Linked DNA regions of Homo sapiens. Changing the gene in region 3 together with the main gene of any one other region gives a genetic interaction. Each region holds a gene or a part of one and is shown on either strand. Other genes may lie near its edges.

The links.
Region 1: changes in MICOS10-NBL1 (region 3) and MRPL3 together harm fitness less than expected from each alone (positive genetic interaction), as found in Homo sapiens cells (one large-scale study listed by BioGRID).
Region 2: changes in MICOS10-NBL1 (region 3) and PITRM1 together harm fitness more than expected from each alone (negative genetic interaction), as found in Homo sapiens cells (one large-scale study listed by BioGRID).
Region 4: changes in MICOS10-NBL1 (region 3) and MED23 together harm fitness more than expected from each alone (negative genetic interaction), as found in Homo sapiens cells (one large-scale study listed by BioGRID).
Region 5: changes in MICOS10-NBL1 (region 3) and MTERF3 together harm fitness less than expected from each alone (positive genetic interaction), as found in Homo sapiens cells (one large-scale study listed by BioGRID).
Region 6: changes in MICOS10-NBL1 (region 3) and KIF14 together harm fitness more than expected from each alone (negative genetic interaction), as found in Homo sapiens cells (one large-scale study listed by BioGRID).
Region 7: changes in MICOS10-NBL1 (region 3) and KCTD10 together harm fitness more than expected from each alone (negative genetic interaction), as found in Homo sapiens cells (one large-scale study listed by BioGRID).

Annotation. Positions count from the first base shown.
Region 1 is NC_000003.12:131,464,972-131,468,471, reverse strand, and holds part of MRPL3 (large ribosomal subunit protein uL3m), read left to right. Parts: intron 1-303; coding exon 304-381; intron 382-3,500.
Region 2 is NC_000010.11:3,155,783-3,159,282, forward strand, and holds part of PITRM1 (presequence protease, mitochondrial isoform 2 precursor), read right to left. Parts: intron 3,261-3,500; coding exon 3,132-3,260; intron 2,372-3,131; coding exon 2,258-2,371; intron 1,750-2,257; coding exon 1,653-1,749; intron 1,283-1,652; coding exon 1,148-1,282; intron 1-1,147. UniProt on the Homo sapiens protein: Metalloendopeptidase of the mitochondrial matrix that functions in peptide cleavage and degradation rather than in protein processing. Has an ATP-independent activity. Specifically cleaves peptides in the range of 5 to 65 residues.
Region 3 is NC_000001.11:19,655,979-19,658,952, reverse strand, and holds the end of MICOS10-NBL1 (neuroblastoma suppressor of tumorigenicity 1 isoform a precursor), read right to left. Parts: intron 2,088-2,974; coding exon 1,824-2,087; 3' UTR 501-1,823; downstream 1-500. Other genes in the region: NBL1 (neuroblastoma suppressor of tumorigenicity 1), read right to left, coding at 1,824-2,087. UniProt on the Homo sapiens protein: Possible candidate as a tumor suppressor gene of neuroblastoma. May play an important role in preventing cells from entering the final stage (G1/S) of the transformation process.
Region 4 is NC_000006.12:131,600,743-131,604,242, forward strand, and holds part of MED23 (mediator of RNA polymerase II transcription subunit 23), read right to left. Parts: coding exon 3,436-3,500; intron 2,463-3,435; coding exon 2,288-2,462; intron 1,640-2,287; coding exon 1,476-1,639; intron 1-1,475. UniProt on the Homo sapiens protein: Required for transcriptional activation subsequent to the assembly of the pre-initiation complex. Component of the Mediator complex, a coactivator involved in the regulated transcription of nearly all RNA polymerase II-dependent genes.
Region 5 is NC_000008.11:96,255,111-96,258,610, forward strand, and holds part of MTERF3 (transcription termination factor 3, mitochondrial isoform 1 precursor), read right to left. Parts: coding exon 3,247-3,500; exon of another isoform or gene 3,112-3,246; coding exon of another isoform or gene 3,082-3,111; intron 2,005-3,081; coding exon 1,852-2,004; intron 1-1,851.
Region 6 is NC_000001.11:200,610,752-200,614,251, forward strand, and holds part of KIF14 (kinesin-like protein KIF14), read right to left. Parts: intron 1-3,500. UniProt on the Homo sapiens protein: Microtubule motor protein that binds to microtubules with high affinity through each tubulin heterodimer and has an ATPase activity. Plays a role in many processes like cell division, cytokinesis and also in cell proliferation and apoptosis.
Region 7 is NC_000012.12:109,453,301-109,456,800, forward strand, and holds part of KCTD10 (BTB/POZ domain-containing adapter for CUL3-mediated RhoA degradation protein 3), read right to left. Parts: intron 3,014-3,500; coding exon 2,818-3,013; intron 355-2,817; coding exon of another isoform or gene 187-354; exon of another isoform or gene 1-186. UniProt on the Homo sapiens protein: Substrate-specific adapter of a BCR (BTB-CUL3-RBX1) E3 ubiquitin-protein ligase complex. The BCR(BACURD3) E3 ubiquitin ligase complex mediates the ubiquitination of target proteins, leading to their degradation by the proteasome.

The DNA.
Region 1 (3,500 bases), on a different chromosome or scaffold from region 3:
AATTTCCACTTGTTATTGTTAATGGTGCCAACAGAGTCCTTTGAAATATCCAAATAGTCTTGATCATTCAGTCACATCTCTATTTAAAATGAGAGTTTTCTACTACTTCCATAAGATATATTTGCTATGGTCTTCTATTACAAGTCATCCATAGGACTTGAAGTTTTTCAGTTCTTATTCAACATTCTGAAGTACTGGTAATAATCTTTTATTACTTTACAAGCAACTTACATCCTCAGCTTTTAGTAACATTGTTTTAATACAAGTATATCCTAAAATTTTTGGTTTTATTTCATGCTTTAGGTGTGGAGAATAAACACAAAGCACAACATAATCTATGTAAATGGCTCTGTACCTGGACATAAAAATTGCTTAGTAAAGGTAAGTATAAGTGTCTTCTTTTTTTTTCCTTTTTTTTTTTTGTTTCTTACTCGCAAGCTAACAAATTACTATCTTTATTTTCTATTGTTTATATATGTGGATATTTGCCATAAAGTCTCCTTTTTCTCATATATGTGGCTTATAAATAAATGGCTGTTTTTCCACATGTTCTCTCCTGAATCTTTCTGCTTTTTAGTAGCACCTGAGTGAAAAAAATGCACAAGATAACCTGTATTCTATTTCTTTCAAACCAAGAACCTGTAAAAAGGGTAAGGCTGTGTATTAGTCCATCCTAATAGAATGGATGGACTCCTATAAAGAAATACCTAAGATTGGGTAATTTATAAATAAAAGAGGTTTAATTGGCTCGTGGTTCCACAGGCTGTTCAGGAAGCATGGCTAGGGAGGCCTCAGGAAACTTACAATCATGGCAAAAGGGGAAGGAGAGATGGACATGTCTTACATGGCTGGAGCAGGAGGAAGAGAGGGAAGGGGGAGGTGCTACACATTTTTAAACAAGATCTTGTGAGAACTCACTATCACGAGAACAGCAAGGGGGAAGTCTGCCCCCATGATCCAATCACTTCCCACCAGGCCCCTCTTCTAACATTGGGGATTACAATTTGACATGAGATTTGGGCGGGGACAAAAATCCAAACCATATCAGGCCAGTAAGCAGAAAGATCTTCAGGAATATGAGAAGGATATTTGGAAAACTATTGCCAAAATACCAGTATATCTCTGTCCTTCCAAAAGGAACATGTTAGCTTTTTAAAGTGCCCCATCTACAAATGAATGGATAAAGAAGATGTGGTGGGTGTGTGTGTGTGTGTGTATGTGTGTGTGTGTGCGCGCGTATGGCTGAAGAATATTCTAGAGAATGCACACACACGCTAGAATAATCTTCAGCCATAAACAGAATGAATTGCTATTGTTTGTGGTGACATGGATAAACCTGGAGGACATTATGTTAAGTGTAATAAGCTAGGCACAGAAAGACAAATATTGCATGATCTCACTTTTATGTAGAATCTAAAAGTTGATTTCATAGAAGTAGAGAACAGAATGGTTTTACCAGAGGCTGGGGGAAAATAGTGGGGAGGAGAGCTGGCGGAGGTGGTCTACAAGCACAGAGTTAGTTAGGAAGAATACATTCCGGTATTCTGTTATATAGTAGGGTGACTGACTATAGCTAATAGTAAGGTATATTTCAATATAGGTAGAAGAGAGGATTTTGAATGTTATCACCATAAAAGAAATGATACATGTTTAAAGTAATGGATATGCTAGTTATCCTGATTTTATCATTATACAATGTATATTTATTGAGACATCACACCATACATATATATGTACAATTATGTGTCAATTATAAGTAAACCCTGCCCCCACCCCCCCCCAAAAAAAATGCTTTTTGGCTTTTAAAAGAGTTACTTTGACAAACCAGAAATACATGAGGTAAAAATTGGAATCATCAAAAGTGGTTAAAGGTAGACATTTGAGGGGGAGCTTTTTTATTATTACTAACACCATGCTCTGATTATATCTTTTAAGTGTTTTTCTTAAAAAAAAGAAAAAAGTAAAAAATTTGTACCGATAGCTCAGATACATTTTAATAAAAACTCTTTAAGTTCTCAGAGACTTACTTCCATAAAATAGAAAATAAATATTCTGCCTGGGGTTTATTCCAACCTAATACAAATTTTCTTACCTCTGAGTTTTGAATCTTCCATGCTGAAAATAAGTTTGTATTAGAAGTTATGTCAGCTGTTCTCCAGAGTATACTCTTCATTGATTTTCCAATGATAGCAGCAAAGAAATAGTGAAACTTAATCCTCTGATTTTTTAAACTCAGTGTTTCCTTATATATTTTTTTTCATTTCTAGGTTCCATTACTAGCATAGGGAATAATTTTTTGAAATCTTGCAAGGAATAAGAATTTTGCTTTTTAAAATTACCTTTCTGAGACACTTCACTTACTGACTGGATTATTCTCATTTTTGTTAAAGAAAAAAATGCATTTAAGCCAGGCCTGGTGGCTTGCATCTGTAATTCCAGCTACTCAGGAGGCTGAAGTGGGAGGATAGGATCACGTGGCCTCAGGAGTTGGAGGCTGCAGTGAGCTGTGATCACACTATTGCCTTCTAGCCTGGGCAACAGAGTGGGACCTTGCTTAAAAAAACAAAAAAAAAAAAAAAAGAGAGAAAAAGAAAAATGTATTTGATGAATTTTTGTAAGTTTTGTTTTTTCCTTAAGTTTGCAGGTTTTTAAGTTTAAGTAGGTTTCTAGTCCCCAAGTAAGGCAGTCATACTTACAATGACAGATAGTTGAAGCCAGAGTATTGTCATTGTACTTCCCGTGGTATTTTGTCTTCATAATTCATGTGAAGACATATCTTCATATCCCTAGCCCCACATTTCAGATCACAGGTTATAAATAGCACAACCTGATAAAGGAGAAGGATTATTTTTTATAATAAAAGTATACTGGACACCAGATTAATTTTTAAATGTCAAATCCTCCTTTTCTGCCTATTTTTCTACATACATGATTCTAGGCTGGTTTTCTAGCTGAACCTTACCATTAATTGCTGTGACTTCTCAAGTACTACTACAACATCTTCTCAAGTACTTCTACAATATCCCTGTTACCAGCAGAGATGAATGGTCAATTATCTTGAAAAACTGTAGTACATACAATGACATTCTGATGTAGTTGTATAAATAGTTGATAACCAGTAACATTTATTACTCAGATTTATCGCCTACTTCAGTAAAAGATTACTTCCAAAAACTCTATTCACTCTCAATCGATAATAGTTTGCCATCACTGAAGATACTCAGAAGATACACCAAAGAGTTCTGAAACGGGAGTCTAAATACATTTTGAGAAACTGGCATCAGAACAATGTCTAGTCCCTTTTGAACTATTAACACACTAGTGAATATATTTCCAGCAAGTATATTTGTATAATAAACACGTCCTTTAAAAAAATCTTTGAAATATGGTGCTTAAATAACTTTCTTTTGTAACCTTAAAGTATCTGCCCAGGCATTAATTAAGGTATGAATTTGGGGAACATTTTATAGGTTTGTGTTTTAAATGGTAAAACTTGCTAT
Region 2 (3,500 bases), on a different chromosome or scaffold from region 3:
TCCTAACACTCAACAAGCTTCTGCTGGTGTGTTCTTGGTCCTGTGGTTCCACTTTCCCACTTTAAAAATAGTAATAATAGAACGCACCTCAAGAGTTGTTTTGCTGATGCAAGTACACAAGCCTTATAAAATGCTTACCACCATACCTGCCTATGTAGTAAGCACAGAATTCATATATGCTGTTATTCTACTGTTATTATTATTATGGTCATTAAGTCTTAAACATATCAATACTAAACATTTTCATTACATCTTAGTTGTAAAAAGGTTTGCACTTTCAAGTACTACAGATCTTGGATTTTAGTCTAATTGAAGATAATATAGAATTCTATTTTTTGTCTAGCGTTCATTCTACTATTAAGCTCTAAAAGGCTAGAACTACATTTCCCATTCAATACTTCGTAAGTTATTAGAACAAAATACATGTTGACGTTAATATAAAAATGAACATTAGGTGATTTCATGTCCTTTCCTTGTTTCAACAATTAAAAAACTACACATGCACAAAATGCTCCCATATAAAATACTACAAACAGGTGAGATAACTAGAAGACACCAGAAAGTTCATGGAAAATAACTTACAACAGCTGAGAGAAACTGCAGGTCAAATTATTAAATCATATCTCATGTCTAAAACAATGGAACCTACTGGAGAGTTTCCCTTCACAGCAGACAACAGTCTCTCCCACCACGGGAACCCTTTTTAAAAGTTCTACCATAGTAATGAGTACAAAGCAAAGAACAGGCAACCAAGCACAACTGCCTAAAAATCTGAGAAAACAAACGCGCAAGCATCAAAAGAATTCACTCATGAAAACCAGAAGATTCATTACATTTGGGTGACTGTTCACATATTTTATATTCTTCTACTAATAAAAGAACAATATATGCAGATGTTTTGTTCATACACACAAACATACATATATTCACACACTAAAAATGCACATATACATTTATCTAAAAAACTCAACTTGCATTACAATCTGGAAAATAATTAAGTTAATGTAAGCATTTAAATTTTTAATTAGAAATTAAGTCACCCATTAACAGAAATTACTTAAATGTATAGATTATGTTCCTAATATTCCTTTCATTAGTATAAAATTCAACTTCAAAATTAGAGAAATGAATTATCCAACTTTCTTACCTTAAAATACTGTTTTACTTTTTCTTGCAAAAATTTTGGATTTTCCTGCAGGCACTGTCTGAATTTAGCTAACTGATTTCCCAACTTCAAGAGCTCCACAGGGTCCCCATCATGGTTCCAGCAAGAAGCTATGTACTGGAAGGAAGATTTCCACATCCACAATGCAGCTGGTACCACAGTACAACCTCCACCAACAGCCCAGACTTGATACTAAAATCCTAGTTTCTGTATTTAAATATACCACAGATGATTGTTTATAACAAAAGTCATGTAATTCTTTGGATGGAGAAACAAAAAAACTTACTTTAGCCCTGTTTTGTTCCAATAAAATAAAAAGCACAGGCTGAAATAATGTTTAGGAAATAACCAACAGATTACTAGTTATAAACCCTTACCCATTTAAAGTAATCTATTTCACATAAAAATATCAAAAAGCCAGTTAAGCTAGTAACAAGACAAAATGTCTATTATAAAACAAAAACAAAATTGTTGAGAGATCACTTACTGATGTCAGCATCAGCCCAAAGCTGGTAGACTGATGTTTCATCTGTATTTCAATTTTATGAAGTAAAGCCTCAATTCGATCATCTTCAAATCCTTTCCTAAAGAATACAATGAAGAACAAAGATGGGCCAGACACAATGGCTCATGCTTGTAATCCCAGCACTTTGGGAGGCCAAGGCAGGAGGACTGCTTGAGGCCAGGCATTTAAGACCAGCTTGGGCAACACAGAGAAAGCCCATCTCTACTACACAAAAATTAGCTGGGCATGGTGGTGTGCACCCTAGTTCCAGCTACTTGGGAGGCTGAGGTGGAAGGATCACCTGAGCCTGGTAGGGGAGGAAAATGCAGTGAGCTGAGATCACGCCACTGCACAGCAGGCTGGGTGACAAAGCGAGACCCTGTCTCAAAACAAAACAAAAACCTAAGATGTTGAAGAGTTTTAGTAACAGAAGGTAGCAGAGATAATATTTAAACAACTAAATATGAACAAAAGCATGTTATATGACAGAGAAGGAAGGCCGAAACAATGGATCAGGCTCAGCTTCTCCCAAAAAGCACACAGGAATGAGGAACGAAAGCAGATTGTTACAAACAAGCTACACTCACTCAACTACTTCATCAATCGTTCTGTCTATGAGGCTTCTGACGGTCTCAATGTCTTTCTCCGCAATCCCTTGGAGGCCGACACTAAAGTAGGCCTCCCTCGTGTAGCCATTATATCTAGAAGACAAAACCAGAAATGATGCACTGGAATCCGGGCACGTTCATCATGCCCTCGTAATATGCTTGATTTAAAGATCAGAACGAAGCGCCTTAAACTCCAGCCCCTCCACTGAAAAGCTCATTAAAGCAGTGTTCTCAAGTAACTGGTTCTGTGTACATCCATGTCATTTTTACATCATTTTTTAAAAATAAAATTTAAACTTTTGAGTTATGGCAGGATAAATATCAAAACAGAGAACTGCTGAGATTTACAAAATTTTAAAAATTCCTGTAGTCCCAGCTACTCTGGAGGCTGAGGCAGGAGAATGGTGTGAACCCGGGAGGTGGAGCTTGCAGTGAGCCGAGATCGCGTCACTGCACTCCAGCCTGGGCGACAGGGAGAGACTCCATCTAAAAAAAAAATTCTAATACTTAATGACCTGACCTGTAAGAGACAACAGCATGACATTCTGAGGCCCTGGAAAAGCTGTCTTTGTGCTGGGTGTTTTTCTTTTGGACAAATGTCCCCTTGGGGGGACACAAATGGCTGGCACTGGATCCAGGATCTCATCCAGAGTTCCCTGATGGGGGCGGCCATCCTGTGTACCATGAGACACTCAGCAACTTCCTGGTCCGCCATCTTCCGATTATAGCAATCAAAAATCCAAAAATGTTCCAGACACTGTCAAGTGTGGGGCCGGGACAGGGTGCGGAGGTGGAGGAGCAAAACTGCCCCCAACCAATGAGAACTACTGATCTAATCTAATCATAAACTCACCCAACATCAGGAGAAAAGTCTGTGCCAAGGCCAGATTCAATCAAGGCTTTGTAAAAGGGAGAATTGGGCCCAGAAGTCAAGAGTGAAGACAGAAGACTTAATGTGAAGGCTTCAAATGTGTCGGTGATGCTGCATTGAAAAAAAAAGGAACGGGGAGGTAAGAAAAGAGTAAAGGGAAAATTACTGGCCCTTATGCACATTTTATTTAAAACCACTACACATCTTTCTAGAAATTCTTGCATTTCAACATTTAACAATTTTATGAGCAGAAGAGAATTTTCCTTAAATACCGGGATTTTTGAAGGGGGGCACAAACCATCAAATTAACTTCACTGCACACGAAATGCTCACCATGGGACAGCCTGCCAA
Region 3 (2,974 bases):
GGACAATATCCGCATCACTGGGAGGTGGTGCGGACTGGGCGAGGACCCTGCACAGGGCCCAGCCTTATATATTAATCTGTAACCAATACTTTTGTCTGTTTCCCCTTCTCCCAGGGGGCCAGGCAGGCCAGGCCCAGGCAAGGGCTGATCCTGGGCCATTGTGTGGGTGAAGAGATGGCATGAGGCAAGCCCACAAGACCAGGGGCCAAAATCCATGAAGCCCAGTTCTGGAGGCCCACCCAAGGTGTATGCGAGGCCAGAAACTGGCACCCAAGGAAAGACATGAAAGCTGGGGAGACAGAGGATCAGGAGCCAGGGGTGCACAGGGCAAGACAGGGAGAGGGCCACAAGGATGCAGAGACAGTGGTGCCGCGTGGGGGCCAGGCAGGCCTGCTCAGCACCCCACTGCCCGAGCCCAGGCCCTGCTGCCTCTGGGCCTCGCTGCCGGCACTTCTGGAGAACCTGGGTCGGCAGAGCCAGTCAGTGAGGAGGAGAACACAGGCGTTGAAGGAATTTATTCATGAGAAGACTGAGGGTCCATCAGGGAGACTGTCCAATGGTGACAAGCTCCAGAAGCCCGCGTCGCAACAGCCAGGAGGGCCAGGCCACCCCAGGCAGGAGGCAGTGGGCTGGCAGCCACCCTGGGCACAGAAGAGCAGACGCAGACAGTGCTGGGCAACGAGGGGCTTTCTTCATGGGCCCGCCTGCCCTGTCCCTCCCCCCAGGTCCCCACCTTCTAGGGTTAAAGTGCAGCTGGGAGGGAGGAGGCAGGCAGAATTGGGGAGCTAGAGAGAGCCCAAGTGAACCCTGACTGTCCACGCAAGTCCCATGTCCTCCTCGTCCTGGAGTTCCTCGAGGTTCAGCGAGCCCATCCCGCCTAGGGCCTCTGGAACCTTGGGGCGAGGGAGGTAACCCCTCACTCCCACACCCATCCGATATTTACAAAGAGCATCCCTGGGAGAGGGGAGAAGGCGGCCGGCTCTGGCAGCTTTCTGGGGGGCCTAGAACTTGGGGCACAGTGCGGGGCACTAACATTTCTAACAGGGAGAGGAGGGGGATGCTCGTCTTCAGGGATGGTCTTGGGGGGTTGTCCCCCTCCTTCTGGCCTTGGAAGACTCTTCCCTTTCCTTCTTCCCCTCCTCCCCTTCCCCCACCAGGCAAGCCAAGGAAGCCAGAGAAAGGCCCGGAGAGCCTGGCTCCCAGCTCCCGCGCCACGAGTCAGCAGGGTCCTGCCCAGGCCTGACTCCCAAACCCCTCCGCTGAGGGAGGGCCACTTCAGTGCCACTGGGGCGACGCTTCCCTGGAGATGGGAAGTGGGGTGAGAGGCCTTGGGGAAACCTGTGGGCCGGAGCCTCCTGTTTCTGCCAGTGGTCTTTCTAGCCCAGCCCTCCCTCAAGCCTGAGGCTGGCAAGATGCTCACACTAAGCCCGGGACCTCAGCAGTACCATCTGCACCCCCAGGGACCTTAGCCCGATTCATGCCATCTTGGATGGCCTCCCCCAGCACTCAATGGCTCAGCCAACTTCCTCCCCCTCCCACAGGCACATCTCTAGAAGCCAGACAGGAAGAGACCACCCCCCCCAAAAAAAGAGCCCTGAAGACCTCTGCTTCCTCCCCCCACTCTTGAATATATTAAATTGTGCAGCTTGGCTCTAACCCCGCCCCTTCAGATCTCCATGGCAACCGGGCAGCATTCAAGTCCGAGTCTGAAGCCAAGTCCATCCAGTGCCAAAGGGGGGCTTCAGCTTCTCCCCTGACTTCCCCAGAGAGTGAGACCCAACATTCCACAGGGGGATGAGAGGGGAGGAAGAGTTGGGGGGGCCTCAGTCCTCAGCCCCCTCTTCCTCTGTGTGGGGGGCCCCAGGGGGGTCCTCGGGCTCAGGGGTCTGCCCGCCAGGATGGGGGTGGGGATGGGGGTGAGGGTGGGTGCCGGGCTGGGATCCCGGCCCGTCCTCGCCCTGCACATAGACGCTCAGCCCCTCGTGACTAGGCTCCTTGCCGCAGGCCTGGCAGCTACAGTGCAGGATCTTCTCCACCAGCTTGTCCACCCTGGGCACCTCCTCGTGGCCCGGGCACTCCAGCGTCACCTGCAGAGGGCAAGAGAGAAGCAGAGGCATGTTCCCAAAGGTCTGGGGCAGGCAAGGCAGCCCCTAGGGTAATACTTCCTCATGGGATCAAGAATCCCAGAGCCCACCTGTGATGCCCAGTTAGCTCTGGGGTCCCATGGGGAGGGGGAAATTGAACCCCTGCACAAGCCACCAGAGCTGTCTCCTCACATCCAGTCCTGCCACCTTCCCACCCATTCCCCACCAGCAGCCACCAGTGTGGCCTGCCCCTGCTAAAATCGCCCCCACCGCCGCGATCCCCCTGCACTTGGAGACAAACCCTGACCCCTCACTAAGGCCACCCAGGACCTTCAGGTGCCACCAGCTGGCTGGCCCCCCTACCCCTGACCCTGCACCACTCTTACCAATCCTGTGCTTGGGCTCTGCCTCAGGGACTCCGCACATGCTGTTCCCTTTGCCTGGAAGGTTCCCCCCACCCACCCCCCTATCCCCGCCGACTACCACATGCCCTAAACTGCGCCTTTGGGTCTGAGCTCAGACTTCACTTCCTCAAAAGAGCCCCACCCCAAAGCCCAGCCCAGCTGAGGCTCACCCTGCAGGAACCCCATCTACCTCCTACTCTGCCCCTATCATCACCCATCTAAGTACCTTTTTTCCTTCTCCCTCCCTTCCTCTCTTCCTTCCTCCCTTCCACAGAGCGCCTACCCTGTGCCAGCTCTGGGGACACAAAGACACATTTCCTTCAAGGAAATCAGAGTCTAGTGGGGGAAACAGATCTGTCAAAATCACCCGGATGCAGGTGGAAGACTGCAGGTGTGAAAGGTGCTTGAAGCGGAGGCATACTGTGCTCTGAGAGCCAACGGTACCAGGGTGTGCCCCAGTCAGGGGGCCTGGAAAGGGGCCCTGAG
Region 4 (3,500 bases), on a different chromosome or scaffold from region 3:
GATATCAGGCTTTTTCACTTGGTATGAGCACTGACGGTACAAAAGCAATGGTGGTAAAACTGCTGGTCCTAAGCACAAATCAAACAGTGGTGCCAGACTAGATGAAAAGGCTTTGTATTCTCCAGCACATGCACTCAGTGAAAGAAAAGTGCCAGTGTCAATCTCGACACCTATTTTTAACATCATATGTAACAAAAGGGGAAGCATATGCCTAGTGTTCCAAGTTTGATGGGTGTCTTGAGGAAAAACACTTGTGCACTTGTGTGACTGACTGAGCACTGAGTTAAATCAGCTGCTTTTTTTTTTTTGAATTCCAATTTTACTTGAAAGAACGTCTGACAGAAAACTATAGCTAGCTAGACTTACGTATTTAGCAGACATTTTCTTGAAAATTAACAAAATGAGCTTGTCACTTTAAGGAAAACAAATGATAGTAACTTTTTCCAATGATAAAATTTGACCTTTCAAGTAAAAATTGAAATTTTGGAAAACCTGTATCTACCACGACATGATAGCATTCCAAAACTTAGATTTTTCTAATAAACTTTGCAGTGATATTAACAAATGTAATTTTCTGATACTGTATAAACAAAATGTCAACGTTTGCTAGATCTACGTAACTCAGTGAACCAGTATTTTCAAAATGAATAATTCATGAAGTTACAAAACATGCATGGATTTAAAAATCCACTAAATGTATAAAACAGATGTACAGATTATAATGTAACAAAGTACATGAAGTTTACTGGGGGTTTTGGATTCCATATTGCAGCTAACCTTTAAGCAACTATCATTTTTCCATGTGATGTCAAAGAACATTCCCAATTATCTGAAAAAGCTATTAAAATACTCCTCTCTTTCCAACCTCATCTGTGTGAGGCCACATTTTTCACTTACTTCAACTAAAACTTCAATGGATTAAATGTCTAAGCAGATGAGAATCCAAACTATGTCTTCCTTTACACCAGATATTAGAGAAGCAAAAATGTCAAACAATGGCACCTCTTCTCACTAAAGTTTTGCTTTAGAAAATATACTTTTTTTATAACATCATATATTAACATGTAATGTTTATTATTGCTATTTAAAAACAAATTAATAAATATTTTTAAACTTCTTAATTTTAATATCTAATATAATAAATATCCATAGATATAATCCATATAAACAGAAACTCTTTGGGAATTTCAATTTTGTTTTTAAGAGTGTAAAGCAGTCCTGAGACCAAAAAGCTTAAAGTATTACTACTTTAAAATTATGGATAGCTGAAAACGATGCTCAACGCAGTTATTAATAGAATGATGGTACACAAAAGAGCTTCCATAAATGAGTGAAATAGTGAAGATATCAAAACAACAGGCTTTTTTCAAACAAATGAAAAGTATCTTTTTAGTATGTTACAACTATAGTAATTAGTAGAATCATGGCACACTTTAATTCATCTGTTGTTGTTTGTAGTCACATATTCACCGTACCTGTTACATGAGTTGCTCTAGCCAAGGTCAATATCAAGGCTCGGTTCAGTTCTTCAGATTCTGCTGAGAGCACTGTTTTGGGATCACTAAGGAAGCGTGTAAACTGCGGTTGTACCTCTGAGCTACCTAATGCTGTTATAAGCCTGAGAGCAGTGCTCTCGACACTGAAAATTGGGAGAATAAAAAGAAATGTAAAAAAATTTCAGAATTATGGAATTAAATCTAAGGTTAATTACAATGGAAAAACATGCAATCTATGACTATCCCTTCTTTAAAAAAACACTTTTGTGTGAGAATAAATGTTGCTTAATTTGTTTAAAAAACCTAATGTGTCCAATTTTATAGTGAAAATCGTGACTTTTTACACATTTGAAAAAGATGGCTTGTCGCCTATAGGACTAAAAAATTTCACCTGGAGATACTGCATTTCAAAAATTATATTTTTCTATCTAAAATATATTTTAATGTAAAGCAAAATCAATGTGACATGATACTTTAACCATAATCTGAAGTATACTTAAAACCAGCATTCTAAAGGGCTAAGTTACAACATAATAATAAATACCCTGGAAGTACTAATTCTCAGTCCAAAGATCCTGAAGGAAGGACTCAACTATCTTAATCAGTTTCTATTTAAAAAGCTGGACTCTGCTCCTATACTGGAAACAAAATACTTTAGAAGCAGAGAAGTTTTATGACAGATGAATAATAATAAAAAAAAAAACTATAAGGTAAAGGTAAAGGATTAAGAACCTCATCTCCAAGAAAGTTTCTAATAAATCTTAAGGAAAGATGGTCTTCAATGAGCTCACCAAAGATGGAGCTGGTTCTGGTTTGTTTGTGCAACTGCAGCCAAAGTATGAAGATGACTCAGGAGCTGAACTCTGTAATGAGGCTGAATATGATGCATCCGGTAGCTAAACATCTCAAGGAGTGTGTGTAAGATCCCCCATGCATGTGATTTGAAAACAGTTGGCAAAAGCTGACCTGGAGGAAAAAGACAATTTAAGGTACCAATTATTAAAGGCTATGCATGAAAAGATATTTGAAGAAAGTCACATTGAGTAAAATATAAAGATTTGATTGTGAAAATACACACGCCCACACACATATATATTCTCCATATTTTCTTATTTTCTACTTTAACAGTAAGGAAAAATTCAGATCCTAACTATAATATCAAGTTTGCTTTTTTCCTGGGATTTGGCAATTGATAATCATGTTTATCTGGAAAAATAAAATGAGACAAGATATGAAAAAACATTAATCTTCTCAATTCTGATATCTTTTATTTTTAGACAATTAATGTTCCATACCTTTTGAAGTATGAGGTTCACTTTTTAATACAAAAAATTGTATTATACCTGCCCTTGTTTCCTCCTACCCCCAAGAAAGTTTTGTTCAACAATCAGTTATCTAAGAAGAGTTATTGTGGTTAAAATTAAGACTATGCTGTATTCGTGAAAAGCTGGAATTACCATGAATCAGAAAAACACTTCTATATCAGAAAGTATCTATTATTTTAGAACTATATAATAAATGAGACATTATAATGTATCTTCTGCAAGGTAGGAAAATTCCTTCTTTATTTCCAGTCAGACTTCGTATGCACTGGAGGACAGCATTGCTGCCTCAGGCAGAATCCATTTGCATGAGGACAGGGACCAGGTCTATCCTGCTCACTGCATCCCAGGCACCTAGCACATTAACCTTTTCTTACCACTTTACTTAAAAATGCAACAAACCCCCCAACCCTCACACTTCCTATTCCTTTTTGCTTTATTTTTCTCTATAACATGTATCATCTGACATATTGTATATTTCATTTATTTAATGTCCTCCTCCATAAGCTCCATCATGGTGGTGACTTGTTCTCTGCTGTGTCCCCAGGACCTAGAAAAGTAACTTTAGAGTTAATGAATGGGTTAATAGTTATAAACACCAGAAAGTCCTGTCTTACTGATAAATCCTTTGATGCCCAAAGACTCTATTTCCATATAGACCAATAAACGACTGTAAGTTTCC
Region 5 (3,500 bases), on a different chromosome or scaffold from region 3:
GATCTGCATTTCAGAAAGAGCACTAACACTGGAAAGATATCAGAGCCAATACTGCTGAGGAGAAGACTATCAAGATAGGAGGCTCCTGCAGCCACTCAGTGACAAATGAGGACCTAAACAAGGTAGTGACTGTAGGATGAGAGAAGTGGATGGATTTGAAAGAAATAGAGAGGGTAGAATCCATAGGATAAGCTATTAAATTAGATGTAAAGAGGAAGGGGACAAAAGCAATAAGAATCAAGGATAGGCCGAGTGCGGTGGCTCATGCCTATAATCTCAGTACTTTGGGAGGCCGAGGTGGACAGATCCCTTGAGGCCAAGAGTTCAAGATCAGCCTGGCCAACAGGGTGAAACCTCGTCTCTACTAAAAATACAAAAAATAGCCAGGCATGGTGGCACGTGCTTGTAATCTCAGCTACCAGGGAGGCTGAGGCAGGAGAATCACTTGAACCTGGGAGGCAGGTTGCAGTGAGCTGAGATGGTACCACTGTACTCCAGCCTGGGAGACAGAGTGAGACCCAGTCTGAAGAAAAAAAAAAAAAAAAAAATCAAGGATGACCCCCAAAGTTTCTAACAGAGCACAGATTTTTCTCTTTTTCCTCTCCTGTTAAAAATCACCTCCCAAAAATATGGGGAATGACAAACAAAAAATGAGATCCTTCTTTGAGGAAACGAGATTATATCCCCACATATCTGAAAACATCTGAAAACAGATGAAAGCATGGCAACAGCCTTATCGGAGAGGAGAAAGACGACACTGAAATGCCTGCAAATGAGAATCTGGCAAGTGGTAAGTGATCAGTACCACAAAAAACTCAAAAGTCTCCAAAATTGGAGTCCCTAGAAATCTGAGAGATTAGAGGTGAGGTACAGACTAAAAACTGGGGTATTGGGTATGGAGAGACCCGACCTCCCCCAAATCCAGTTCCTCTCAATGCACTAGGAGAAAGGAGATTCATTATCTGGGAAAATCAAGTATGAGAAGTACCAAACCCAGAGAAATGAGGAAAGCAAAAGTTTGTAATAAAATGCCAGACTAAAAATAAGATGACTAAATGAAAGTTTGGACGGAGATCCCCTGGCTCCCTTAAGCTATCCAGATCCAAGTGCAACCTAATGGTCAACAAGTGAAGGCAGCTATAGAGTAGGCCTAGAAACCATTCAAATCAGGAGGACAGTGGCTTCAGGAAGGAGGTCGGGGTAGTGTGACAAGCAGGGAACAATCCACTCTGGAGAAATGAAATACATCATCTGATAGGGTTACCTGGGAAAAACTGTCCTGAGAGGCTACTGGAAGGTATGGAAAAGTTTAACCCCAGAAACAAACAAACAAACAAAACAATTCATCAAATGAAGAACAAGGCAACTATTACTGCCGGAAAAATGAAAAGTTGTACAGGAAGGTAAATAATGATAGCATACTTCTTGTTAGGGCAGATAGCAATATTTATAGTCATAATTTAACTACTGACTAATGATTTATCTAAAATTGTAATTTATATTAGGAGAATTGAAAAGAATACAGGAAAAGTACATGTGTACATACAAGAGATCAAATGATGTCTAAAACTGATGAACCAAACAACAGCACTACAAACAACTATTTTAAAATGAGGAGGTTGAACACAAACAGAAAGAATGATACAAGTTAAGTAGATGCATCTGGGGAATAGGATGCAAGATCACCAAGGATGAGGCAGGGAATACGGTTTCTCACTAGAAGCCTTTATGCTATTAGACTTTTGCTTATGTTTGTATACTACTTAGTATAGATTAAATTGTTAATTTAAAAAAGTAAAAAAAGTAATGAAGAGTACATGCAAAAAGTACTTGTAGTTTAGTCAAACTTACCTAGAAGAACCAACTTCTGCAGAGTCTCAGAATGATCCACATAGTCTCGAAGTGTGAATGAAGCTGGTGGCAATGGAGGGTCTGCAATAATCTGAATAGCCTCTTCCTCTGAAATTGGCTGCATTGGAGACAATGGAGGCAATTCATCCAGTTCTTTGAAAGAGAGAAACAAATTAGTGCTCTAATATGCACACTTAAAACTATTTCTGCAAAGACCAGCTCTTCCCTTGTTTGCTTCTTTCAGTGGTTAAATCTTGGGATCATTTTAGAATTAAACATCCAAGTCCCTAATTTTTCACCTTTTAAGAGGTAAGGTTACAACTATTTAGACAGACTAACTACTGTTCCTCTGAGATTAGAAATTTGTTGGTAAATTTCAAAGCACACAATGCCTTTCCTTCACTTAATCAGTAGGTGAGAATGCTAAAAATCACCTAACTTTCAAGTGAATTTTGAAACAGAGATTGAGTTTACCATAGCCTGTTAACTTGGCTAAAAGTACACATATGCCAACAGTCTGAATTGCATGGATTAAAGTAATCATATCCCGAAAGTCTTTGTTTTGACCCAATGCCCTCCCTTCCAAGTTACCCTCAAATACATCTTTAAAAGGGCTTCTATGATTGTTTCTACAACCTGCAGTCCTCTCTACAGGAGATGTGACTCTCTAGTACAGCCCTGATTCTGAAGTTGTTTTTGTTTTTTTAAAATCAAACGCAGCATGGAAGACACTTAGAACTACACATTACCTTAAGCTAAGGAATCAGGTCTGTGATCTTTTGTTCTGTTTTGTGCTTCTCATCATTAACTATCCTTTCTCATCATTTATAGCCAGCATCTCCTCCCTGCCCTCTCCCCAGCTCTCTTTCCTTCATATTCTACTTAACCTTATATCATTTCATTACCAGCGAAATATTCCTAGAATAGGACCCATAGGAAGGAGAGGATTGACTAAAAAGCGACCATGAGGGAACTCTGTGGAGTTAATATAATTGTTTTATTTGTTGATTGCAGTAGTTCTTACACACTAAATGCATATGTCAAAATTCATAGAACTATATATCCCACAAGATGAATTTTACTTGATATAATTATACCCTAATAAAACTAATTACCACTAGAAGAATTTTGTTTTAAGAATCTAAACAATAAAATATTTAAAAAGCAAATGTTTTATATGTGTAGCTATAAAATAATCTTACACGTTAGCCCACAAACTTTTTTTCTTACCAGTAAAATAAAGGCATGATAGAAGTTCATCAATAGAACTGGTATTATTCTTTTTCTTTCTTGGCACAAAATATTACCTGAAATGGGCTAGCAGAAGGTAAACAGGTAGCTTGTTCAAATGGCCAAAGTAGGGAAAGGGAGACTTTTCTGAAAGTTCAGAATTACCTTCTAGAAACAGCTCAGAATCAAAGCTGGATATATTTTGTGTCTTCTGTGACTGTTCATTCATGGAAGGAAGCAGACTGCTTTGGGCAGAATTATTCTCCTGACTACTTGAGCTAGTAGACTGGGAACTATTCCATAAGGAGGAAGTCCTGTAAGTCTTAAATCCCCACTGGAGAAAGCAATTGTCAGAGGATATCTGAGGCTGAGCAGAAAAGCCATGTAACAGTGTTCTTGCTGGTCTAGTAAAACGTTTT
Region 6 (3,500 bases), about 180 Mb from region 3:
TTAATTAAGAATCAAAATGAGATGACTATAAATATGACTAATCAGAAAAGGGAAAATTTAGGATGGCCAGAGAAAAGGGAAGGAGTAAATAGAATGTGAGGCATGAGAGACAGAGTAGATTGAACCAGAAAGAGGGGGTAGGGCATTCTCGGGCAAGGACAGCAGCATCTGTGCATCACATGTGCTCAGAATAGGAAAGACACCCTGTAGGTTGACATTTGATCTGGTAAGATGGAACCTTAAATCAACAATTCTTCCTGATTGGGAGAGAAAGCAATCATTAGATTAAGTGGGCTGAGCTTCTCCTCCTTTTGACTCTGAAAGATACAGTGTAGAGGCCAAAAACGGGAAACTTTGCTTCCAAACAGCTCTTCTGACAGTTAGGGCATGGTTTCCTTATTAGAGAAATAAATTTCATCCACTGACCCAGAAGTGAGTCAGCAAGCATCTAACAGAATTGGAAGCTTCAAGGGAGTGTCAAAGAGATTTAAGTTCAATTCACCAAATATTTATTGTGCCCTACTAGGTACAAAGCACTCTTCTAGGAGCTGTGGGAAAATATGAGATGAACTGGACATAGTTTTTATCCTGAAAAAACTCAGAAGCTAATTGGAGATGCAATACAGTACATGAGTAATACAAGGCAGAATATAGCTGGTGTCATGAGAGAGAAACAAAACACTTCCAAAGAGACCAGGTATAAGGGAACACCAAGTAATTATAAGGTCATTGACAAATGCTATGAACAGGGATGGGGGCTGTCAGAATTCAATAAACACGTAATAATGCTTATTTTATGTAAAATAGTATTTTATGTTATAGAGGCTCCAGGAGGACTTAGAAATGAAAATGTAGTGTGGGAAACAAATTGGAAAAGGTAGCTGGGGCCACACTGGAGAGGTCCTACTTTTTTCTTCTCCTCTGAGGCTCCTGCCATCATGCTCGCTATACCACCTTCTATTACCCCCATCCACATACTATTATTCTCTACCATCCTGGCTAATTCCAAAGTTGATATAACCACATTTAGTTGGGCTCACTATGTGCCAGGCACTCTTCAAAACCTTTTGTATAGATCAACTCATTTAATGCTCACAACAAACCTATGAGAAAGACATTGTCAATATAATCTCTATTTTCTGTTCTGAAACACAGAAAGACATTAAGTAAATTGTTCAAGATCACATTTCTACTGCAGTGATGAAGCTGAGATTCAAATTCAAATAATGTATCTCCAAAGTCCATGCTCTTTTTTTTTTTCTTTTTTTTGAGACAGAGTCTTGCTCTGTCGCCCAGGCTGGAGTACAGTGGCATGATCTCAGCTCAGTGCAATGTCCGCCTCCAGGGTTCAAGCGATTCTCCTACCTCAGCCTCCCGAATAGCTAGGATTACAGGCGCCCACCACCACACCTGGCTAATTTTTGTATTCTTAGTAGAGACAGGGATTCACCATGTTGGCCAGGCTGGTCTCAAACTCCTGACCTCAGGTGATCCGCCTGCCTTGGCCTCCCAAAGTGCTGGGATTACAGGCGTGAGCCACCATGCCTGGCCAACCAGGCTCTTAAGCATTCATTACACTATGTTATTCAATGACATAGTCATTCCACGCAAAATCTGAGCCTCCTAGTCCTTTGAAATCATTCCAAAGACCTTTGCCTCCACTACACTTATCTATGTCTTCCTGGCTTTACCTTCAAATTACTATCCCTCTAAAATCTGGAGAGCCAATAGAGAACTCTGCCCCACAAGCCCACAGCTTTCTCTTATGCCCACTAAACTTGGACTTGAATCATATTTCATCTCATAGTCTCAATACCACCATATTTCTATTGATCCCCATACTCCTCCTATTTTCAATTTAATTACTGGGAATGAGAGGTTGAGGGTAGAAGAAGACAGAGGAGAGGCAGTATATCCACAGAAGAGACAGAACTCATCAATTACTCAAATCTACTTTTCCTCTTGTGATCTCAAAAAATGACATCGATATCTAATCTGGTTGTCCAACCAGAAACATTGATTTCTCTCTCCCTCATCCTCCATTTCCAATAATCAGCAAGTCTTACCAGTTATCCTTACTAAGACAGTCCTTCATGAGCCAAGTTCTGCAGGCCTTTCTAGTTTATTCTCTTTTTTTTTTTTTTTTTTTTTTTTGAGATGGAGTCATGCTCTGTCACCCAGGCTGGAGTGCAGTGGCGCGATCTCGGCTCACTGCAACCTCCATCTCCCTGGTTCAAGCGATTCTCCTGCCTCAGCCTCCCAAGTAGATGGGATTACAGGCATGTGCCACCACACCTGGCTAATTTTTGTATTTTTAGTAGAGACAGGATTTCACCATGTTGGCCAGGCTGGTCTCGAACTCCTGACCTCAGGTGATCTGCCCGCTTCGGCCTCCCAAAGTACTGGGATTACAGGCATGAGCCACCGCACCCAGCCTCTAGTTTCTTCTCTTATCACTTTCCACCCTCAAATTCCATGCTCAAAACACAGTGAACAATTTATAGATTCCCAAAGGCTCCCTACTTTTTTGCTTTCAAATCTTGGTACATGCTGCTCCCTCTCCCTGGAATATCCTTCTCCCCTTCTTTACCAAGCTAATAATGCTATGTATCCTTCAAAAATAAGCTCAGCTGCTCCTTCCTCTGAGAGAATGTCTCCCTCCAACTTTATATGTCCTCACTTACATGTTCTATTAGAGCATCTACTTTAGTTTGTTTAGCATTTAATTGATTGTACTTGGCTGTTAACTTATTTCTCCCACTACACTCCTTTGAATACAGGGACTGGGTCTTTTAACTCCACACCCCTAATCTAGCACAATTTTCCCAATTTCCTTTATCATAAAAAATACTGGAGGAAAAGCATGAAAATTATAAAATCCCAAGCTCTACACCAGACCAACTGACTCAGAACCCCCAGAAGAGATTTTTAGCAAGTGTGTACATACACATACACATGCACATATATGTCCCTGCCAAGAATCCCCGGTGATTCTTATGACCAAGAAAATTTGAGAAAAAAAAAAACTGATCTAACAAGCTGCCTGGCAACAGCAGAATGCTCAGTAAAAGGTAGCTGAATGTGTAAATGAATAAGTGAAATAGGAAGCCAGTACAGCCTATTCAGGTGTAGTAGAGTGGAAAAAGCATGGCTTTTGAAGTCAACTCTGGGTTCAAATCCCAATTTCACTACTCTTTCTGATTCACGTTGTCCAAAAGGTTATGCCTGCTGTCCTTAGTTAAACTGTACACCTATCTGACTACAAACACACGTATAACAGCACATAGCTACCATGTTTGTGAGCCTCTACGTATACACAAAAGTAAAGCAAAAACAAGGGAGAAAAGACAGAAGAGATGACTTCACTATCACTGCCCACTAGGTGAAACTGATTCTGAATTTAGAATTTCCACCCTCCCTCTCCATACCACTGTTCCAAAGAAGAGTGATCTACAAATTAGAACTGATCTTCCATTAAGTATTTCCTTAGTGGCCATGAC
Region 7 (3,500 bases), on a different chromosome or scaffold from region 3:
CACCTCAGCCTCCCAAGTAGTTTAGACTACAGGCACACACCACCATGCCCAGCTATTTTTTAAAAAATTTTTGGTAGAGACAGGGGTGTTGCTATGTTGCCCAGGCTGGTCTTAAACTCCTGGACTCAAGCAATCCTTCTGCTTTGGCCTCCCAAAGTGCGGGATTACAGGTGTGAGCCACCATGCTCAGTCCTTTTCTTTATTTTCTTGCACCCAGACCTGAGCATTCCTGTGGCAGCAACCAGAGACTGCAGGAGTCAAAACTCTGAGGGAAGGAACCTTCTTTTCTGATGAGAAGAGCTGTGGTCTCAGCAGGATTGGGAGAATCTGGTTGCTTTTTCTATCTTCATGCTCCTGGGCCCAAAATACAGGCATGGTTACAGAAAGTGGGTGGCAAAGGGGGAATAACCAAACCCCCAGCTTTCTGGCTGGCCGATCAGAGAAGGGGACTCCAGGGAAGCTTAGAGAACTGCGGAGAAGAGGAGCTTGAGAAAGCAGCCTGTGAAGTTGTATATGAACTCCTAGACCCACACCCAGCTGCAAGATCTACCCCTAAACTGCATACGCAGACTGAAAGAACTGAATGCTGCAAGAGATACTGCCCAGGACAGACGGGCCACAGCATGGCACACAGCTAGGACAGATTTGAAGGCTTTGAAAATCAAACTGTCACCGCAACTACAAACTACAGAAGGCTGGTTAGAGCTTGCAGCCTGAGCCCAACTGGGTCAATTGCCTGCTAAAACAAAAACATCAATGTTCTCCCTAGGATTTAAACAAGGCCTGGAGTCCTTTAACAATATTCAAAATGTTTAGGATACAATCAAAATTTCTCAATACACAAGAACCAAGAAATTCTCAACTCCTGTGGGAAATAACTCACAGATGCTAGCGCCAAGGTGACACAAGGTTTTGGAATTACCTGACAAAGACCTGGCAGCAGCTATTATTAACCTGTTCCAGTAAGTAAGGGCCAATGCTCTTAGAGCAAATGGAAACATAGGGAGTCTCAGCAAGGAGACAGAAAAACCAAATGAGCACTTGAGAACTGACAAATACAATAACCAACAACCTCAAACAAAAACACAACTTACCAGCAGGGCTCAATAACAGAGTGGAGATGAGACAGGAGAGGAGAGTGATATGGGCTGGGTGCAGTGGCTCATGCCTGTAATCCCAACACTTTGGGAGGCCAAGGTAGAAGGACCACTTGAGGCCAGGAGGTCGAGACCAGCCTGGGCAACATAGTGAAAGCCAGTCCCTACAAAAATAAATAAAATGAGCCAGGTGTAGTAGCATGCACCTGTGGACCCAGCTACTCAGGAGGCTGAGGCAGGAGGATCACTTGAGCCCAGGAGTTCAAGGCTGCATTGAGCTATGATTGTGTCACTGTACTCAAGCCTGGGTGACAGAGCAACACTCTCTCTCAAAACAAAGAGAAAAGAAAGAGGCCCTTGGCTTCCCATCCTGGCTCTGCCACTAACTAGCTTTACAAACACAAGAACATGCCACTCCTGAACCTGTCTGCTAATCTAGAAACAGTTGGGATCAGACCATGTGGTCTCTAAATCCCCTTGTTCCTTATTAAGCTCTAAAAATGAGAAGTCTTAATCTTTTAAAGCTTAATCAATATGGTGACTCTCCTCTTACTACCCAAGGGCAGAGGCAGCCCAGGTATATTTTTAAAAAATCAAACCATGACAGAATGGGGGTCTAATTACAGGAAGAATTCACAGCCCTGAAAAAAAAAAAACAGTTCACAGGAGAAAAGGGGCATGATGTCTTGCCAATGTGGAGAGAGAGGCAGATGATTCTGGTTCACCCCCTGCCCCCGGGATCTTTGAAAGCAAAAAGAACCTCAGTGTTTAGCACTTCTTGGCTACCTTAAGAACAATATCTATTCTTTTAGGATAGATTTTGAATGCTTAGGAATAAAATATGTTGTCAAATTCATCCTGTGAGTGCTGGGGAGGAGGAGTAGATACAGACTGAGTGAGAGTGCCCAAGCTGATGGCCCTTGACGTGGCGTGATGGCACAGGGGAAATCACCACACTATAATTCTGTGTATGGCTTCAATTTTCAATAATAAGTTAAAAAAAAAAAAGACTCTGGTTTCTACTTTGTGATGTGATGATTTCTTCTCATTTGCTTTTTGTTCGAGGTCAGCTACAGAATCATGCAGAACTGTGGCCCCAAAAGCTGCAGGGACAATAGTAACCTGGGTAAGTGACCTACAGGCTCAGGCTCTTAAGACTCCTGTGCAAGGGTGACAAGAGGCATGACCGTCGGCCCACAGCAGACCTGCTGCATGTCACTGGATAGCCAGAATTCCCTTAGACACGTTAAAGAAATGACAGAGTGTATAATGTGAATTAAAAGTTTAAAAAGACAGAAAACCCAATTGCAGAGCCCCAAAAGGGCAGGCAAATTCAATTAAGGGGGGGCCAGATCTCTAGCAGCACTATGCAGAGCAATCCAGCTTTGTGGAACGGCATGGTGGGAGAAGTCAAAGGATAGGTCAAGCCTACTGGTTTGGAGAGGATGATATAAAAACACATCCCCAGAGTCCAGCCCAGTCAGGGAGTCAAGCATGCTTGGAAGGAAGCCAGCAAGGTAGGGAGCTAAAGGAATGCCAGATGAACCCTACATTTGGCTCCTTGCAGGGCCTAAAAGATAAATATTTTAAGGATGAGCAATCACAAGGCAAGCAAAGCATTTTAAAAGCATTTCCCTCTGTATTGGGCTCAAGTGAAAGGAAGTTCTATAGGTGTGTGTTTCAGAACAGCCACTCCAAACTGTCCTCTCGAGGCTCTTACCTTGGTCTGTTTCTTCTCAGTGGCATAGACGATGGAGGTACAACAGACTTCAGCAATCTTCCGGCCCTGACCATAAAAGGACCAGCAGCAGATTTCATCCCCAATAACATCCTTTATGAACAGGACCCTTCCGTTAAAGCGCAGAGACAGCTTATCAAACAGTTCAATGTTTTTCAACATATTGTCGTCAGAATTGCTGCAAAAGAGCATTTGATACGGTGACCACAAGCTGGTAAAAACTGCCATCATTTGCTGGGCCCTTCTACACGCAGGGCCCTACTGAGCCCACTTTCTCCACTACCTCATTTCAACCTCACAATAATCCCATGACAAAGGCACTCCAATCTCCATCACTCAAGAAGGAAAGTGAGGATCAGAGAAATTAGGTAATTGCTCAAGGCTGAACCTAATAAATGGCAGACACGCCCCCCAAAAGACAGCCCTGGCCCCTAAGCCTGAGTGCTCCTAACCATTGTGCTTGAGTGACAGCCTCTGGGCACAGGCACCAGGTGGAGGAGAGCACCTCACCGAGCCCCAAGAGGAGCAGAATGGCACTGCCCAAGGGAGACTCTATATCCTAGGTCTTTTTAAAGATCTTGAGTAACCTGATTAAATCCTCCCTGCATCCCTCAAGTTCCTGAGTTAGAGCCACATGTTTTCAAGGGCCAAATGGCATTCTAGAA